Linked DNA regions of Homo sapiens: region 2 is linked to region 1. Evidence: fine-mapped expression QTL. A gene starts in region 1. The other region holds a variant in brackets. All regions are shown on one strand. Distances are from middle to middle.

Region 1 (2,500 bases):
CAGTGTAGCGTTACTACTAAGCTTCTCCGATGAAATTCAAGGTTTTTTTCTCTCTTCCAATTCAATTTGTTAGGCGACACTTCAGTAAACAGTAGGGGCAAGATAGAGTGGAAACAGCCAAGATTTCAAGCCTAGTAATAAGCAACTTCTACATCCCTACTCATCACAGGCCTTTTTGTCTATCCCAGAAACACATACTTTTCCTGAAAAAACAAAGCACTGGAAGGATTACCAAGTCTAGAAAGAACCCGCCCTCCCCAAACTAGGTGGTTTTCTGATAAGCCTAAGGTATGTTTCACAGGATCACTGGTTGCCATCTCCTACCCAGCAATCTGGAGAGGTTGACCAGAATAAAGTATTTTAAAATCCAAGCGCTTAGTCTAACCTGGAATTTCCTCAGTTTCTAGATGGCTCTTTGTAGAACAATGCAGATTCTCAAAGGTGACCACAGTTAAAGAAAAAATTACAAGCCATTGCGCTAGAGAGAGCCATCTGCAGTTTCTCCTTAGACAGATGTTCAGATGGCACACATGGCCACTAAATTTGCATAATATTTCAGGAAGTTCACAGATTTCCCGAAGCCCACTCATGAATCACACTTCTGGTTAAGAACTCCTAGATTCATATGCTAGTTGGTGATAAGTGCTTTGGTATATAAACTTAAACCAAAAATTGGTGGAATAATTACCACCTTGGATAGGATGGTCAGAGAAGTTTTATCCGAAGAGGTCACTTTTGAGCAGAGACTTGAGCTGGTGCAGACACCTGAGTGTGCATTCCAGGAAACGCGAACAGCAGGCGCAAGGGTCCCTATGAGAGAATGTGCTTGGCGGGCTCGACGCACATTTATTTACTTGGGACACACCCTATTTTGGTTTCTCTTCTCCACTTTTCCCCTCGTTCTTGTCCCCCCTTTTCTCTCTCCTGGGCCCTGGATCTCCTGAGCGCGGAGGGCTACGCCTCCTTCTTCCTCCGGACTCACCAGGGCTGCCAGCTTAGCTTACATTTTCAGGGAACAGGAAACTGAGAGTCAGGAAAGGTGAGCTCTTCTACCTCGGGTCTTGCCATTTTGCATGTCCTGAGTCAGTCACTGGTTAACTCTGAACTTCAGGTTCCTCGGCAATTAGAGATTATAAATAGCCTATACAGCCTATTCCAGATCTGAGATTCCAACAGCCAAAGTCTTTTCACTTCCTTTCTTCCCCCTCTCCTTCACTTTCCCAGCTTTCTTCTTAACCAACAATCTACCCGAAACCGTCGTTTCTTGGTTAGCGCTTGCGCAGACAGGCGAGAAAGGTAAGTTTTGACCCAGCTTAGCAGCCGTAGTCAGCCGGGAGTGCTGTCGTGGGGGATTGTGGGAAAAGATGGCGGCTGCCGCACAATCCCGGGTTGTCCGGGTCCTGTCAATGTCACGTAAGTGTTACCGGGAACGGCGGCCCCTGGTCGGGATTCCGAGACGGGGATTTAAGGTTTTGGAAGTGGCACCGTGCTGCAGCGGTCACGCCAACTTCCTAGGCACACTCTGGTTTCTCTAGGTTTGGAGCTGCCTCAGTCTGGTTTCTCCTTTCGCTTTCCGCTTCCCCGGCTCACATATTCAATTGTGCACCACCTTGGGAGGGGACAAAAGATCTTAAGCAGCTGTAAGCGAAGAGGAGAATGCGGGGGACACGTTAGGGATCGAGAGAATCAGAATTCTGATATGGTTGTAAGGGTTTAGGGTTATGAGAAATATTTGTATGGGGCGGGGGGAGAAATGTGTAAGGGAGGGAAAAAAGGCTAGTGGCGAGAGGTTTTCTTAGATTGATTTTATGACCTTGTGCAAACCCTTAATGGGTCTCAATTCATATGAGCACAATGGAAATGATAATATTACAATACCAGGGAGTCTCTGATAAGATTAAATGAGCTAATATTTGTAAAAGCATCCTTTTACCCAAAAGCGTCTCTACGGATGTAGAATGTGTTCGGCAAAGTGCGTTGGGGTCTGGGGGAGAGAGTGATGTTTGAGGAGAGAAGAATCAGGAGCTTGGTGGAAAGGAAAGTGAAGAATGAAGGCTATGTTAGAATTTGTTAGCATTATTTAGTTTCTCTTCTGTTCTGATTGGATCTGCTCCCACTCCTCAAACTGAAAACATACATTTGTCCTTCCACTCACTAAAAAGCAAGGAAATTAGAAATACGGTTACACTTCATCATTGTCCTTTCACCCTCTACTCTTCCACAAACATATTCCAATCAAACCCCCAAAGTTGTATTTTTCTTAGTGTATTTTAGTCGTTACAGAATATCATTTGCTTTCAAAATTGGCTCATGTCAGAATCACTCGTAAAGCTTTATAAAAATTAGAAATGAGGACTGAGTGTAGAGCTATTGAGTCAGAATTTGTGAGATTAGCTCCTTGCACCTTAAATTTTTAAAAGCACCACAGATAGGCTTGATGTTCAGCCTGAGGCAAGAATTAGGAGTGTTTAGAGGATCCTTTTTTTTTTGTTTTCCATCT
Region 2 (3,033 bases), 22 kb after region 1:
GATGTATCCAAAGGAATTGTTAATGCAGTTAAGGATCCTGATGCCAATGGGAAATCCTTTGCTTTCGTTGGGTAAGTGCTTAGAGTTTGAATTTTAAATTGTGCTATTATAATGAAGGAATCAATATCTAAATTAGTTACTAACAGATTTATTTGTTGCACTTTTACAATATCAAAATCTCCTCATTGCTTGCATTAAATCAGAATTTGAGGGAACCTGGAATCTACTTTAATGAATGATTCTTCTGTTACCAAGGTCTGAGAACCACTGCCCTAGACTATTACATATACTTAGTCCAGTGACCCTTAGGGATGGTTTTGTACTACTCCAGTGATGTTTTTAATATATAAAAGGATATTGCTGTAAATTCTAAAACACAAACAAAACACTTTTAGGGAGTAAGTATGGTTATAAAACCACATTAATTTTGATGGAGTATCACAATGCCTCCAGAGGCTGAAAAACGGGTGGTTTATAGCACAATTACTAGTGCTGTGCGAGATTGATTATTTCTTTTATGCTCTTTGCTAAAATTTGCTTTCAGAAAAAAGGGGTACAGTTAAGCTATGTGGCTTACCTGAAATTACTAAATCATGTGACAGCTAAGCTTAGGAATTTTTTTGCTGAATTAACTAAAAGTCAAAAACTAAGACTTCATTTGCCAAGTTGAGAGGTATCAAATTCACCTGGTAAGTGGTTCATAACCCTGTGATTCTGTGAAGCAAACTAGTGACACTTGACATCTATGAAAGTTAAGGATCTGGCTCAGTAATTAAGGGATAGCCTAATTCATAAGAAATGTTTGCCTCTAGAGGAAAATGACACTGTTCTCTTTAAGCCAAGAGGCATAGAATATACTCCCAGAATTCTGAATCTATACATTGTTATGTTCCACTATTATTATTTAATACATAATTTTTTTCAGTGTGAAAGTCTTGGTTTTCCATGTCAACTAGCAGCTGCAAAATATATTTCTCCTTTTCAGTTCCCAGTTTGGTACATTAGCATGCAATCAGTTATATAGTCTAGATAAGAATTACAATTCAATATATTCAATACAGGTTTCATAAAATACTACACAAAAGACATTAGTTCCAGTGAAGAGGTACATGGACTAGGATTTCAGGGAATAAATGAGCGGAAATGGCTTTGTGAACTTTACTTGCTCTAGCTCTGGATGAGTTGCACATTTTCCTTTTTACCTTTGCCCAGCCATTATCCTTTTGTCTGGGCTCCAGTAAGTCATTCTTGTTTGGCGTAACGATGGGAAAAATAATACTAGACATTGCAGTGTAGATATTTTTCCTCTTGAAATTGTAGATAGGTATCTACACATTTCTCATCTCTTCAGCCCCAGGAAAAAACTTTGCTTCTTTCTCTGATATTTTGAGGCTAAGGCAGTGGCATAAGACTATAATTTTCCTCCTAGGTTTTTTGTAATTATGAATTATATTATGTTGGTCCATTCTATTTGCCATTCATTCATAAAATACCTATTGATACACACTCATACAACATTACACACAACTGTGATGATGAATAAACACATTCAGCAAAATCA[C/T]GATGTATAAGATCAGCATAGAAAAATCAATATATACTAGTAAATGAACAATGTGAAAATAAAATTAAGAAAAGAATTTTATTCACAGCAGCATAAAAAATAATAGAATATTTAAGTATAAATTTAACAATTAAATTTATTATATTATACCTAATAAGTAATGACATACCATGTTCATGGATTGAATGAGTCAGTATGATTAAAATGATAATTTCCTTCAAATTGATTGACAAATTCAACTTAATTCTATCGAAATTCCAACAGACTTTTTTGCAGAAGTTGATAAATTGATTCTAAATTTATATGGTAATGCAAAGACCCACAATAGACAAAACCATTAAGTTTCATAATTTCAAAACCTAATAGCTATAATTATCAAGATAGTATGGTACTGACATAAGAATTGACGTATAGATGAATTAACCAGAATTGATAGTTCAGAAATAAATCTTTATGGACAATTGATTTTTGAAAAAGGTGCTATGGCATTTCAAAGGGGAAAGGATAGTCTTTTCAACAAATGGTTTTGGGATATCCACATTAAAAAAAAGATGAACTTCGACTCCTACCTTGCTCTGTACATGAAAAAATTAAAATAATTCAGAGACTTCAGTGTAAGAGTTATAAAACAAGGATTGGTGGCAAGATGGCTGAATAGGAACAGCTGCAGTCTGCAGCTGCCAGCAAGATTGACACAGAAGGCGAGTGATTTCTGCATTTCCAACTGAGGTGCCTGGTTCATCTCATTGGGACTGGTTGGACGGTGGGTGCAGCCCAAGGAGGGTGAGCCAAAACAGGGTGGGGTGTCGCTTCACCCGGGAAGCATAAGGGGTCGGGGAACTCCCTCTCCTAGCCAAGGGAAGCCATTAGGGACTGTACCATGCACTCTGGCCCAGATACTGCGCTTTTCCCATGGTCTTTGCAATCCGCAGACCAGGAGATTCACTAAGGTGCCCATGCCACCAGGGCCCTGGTTTTCCAGCACCAAACTGGGCAGCCGTTTGGGCAGACACTGGGCTAGCCGCAGGAGTTTTTTTTCCATATCCCAGTGGCACCTGGAACGCCAGTGAGACAGAACCTTTCACTCCCCTGGAAAGTGGGCTGAAGCCAGGGAGCCAAGTGATCTGGCTCAGCGGGTCCCACCCCCACAGAGCCCAGCAAGCTAAGATCTACTGGCTTGAAATTCTCGCTCCTAGCTCAGCAGTCTGAGTTCAACCTGGGACGTATGAGCTTGGGAGGGAGGGGCGTCCACCATTGCTGAGATTTGAGTAGGTGGTTTTCCCCTCACAGTAAACAAAGCCACCAGGAAGTTCAAACTGGGCAGAGCCCACTGCAGCTCAGGAAGACACTGTGGCCAGACTGCCTCTCCAGATTCCCTCCTCTCTGGGCCAGGCATCTCTGAAAAAAAGGCAGTAGCCCAAGTCAGGGACTTATAGATAAAACCCCCACCATCCTGGGACAGAGCATCTGGG

Evidence for each region.
Region 2: its variant is fine-mapped to the expression of NDUFA9 in whole blood (TOPMed, PIP above 0.99).

What each region holds. Positions count from the first base shown.
Region 1 is chr12:4,647,763-4,650,262 of GRCh38, forward strand. It overlaps NDUFA9 (NADH:ubiquinone oxidoreductase subunit A9), which reads left to right and starts at 1,352. Exons shown (of 11, transcript NM_005002.5): 1 at 1,352-1,413. The coding sequence starts at 1,365. AKAP3 (A-kinase anchoring protein 3) reads right to left here and starts at 1,289. Exons shown (of 6, transcript NM_001278309.2): 1 at 983-1,289. RefSeq lists enhancers at 714-763, 1,044-1,253, 1,122-1,777.
Region 2 is chr12:4,669,747-4,672,779 of GRCh38, forward strand. NDUFA9 (NADH:ubiquinone oxidoreductase subunit A9) reads left to right here. Exons shown (of 11, transcript NM_005002.5): 8 at 1-71. Among named protein-coding and RNA genes, the nearest start is that of NDUFA9, 22 kb to the left of the region's middle. The variant C/T (reference allele first, on the strand shown) is at 1,562.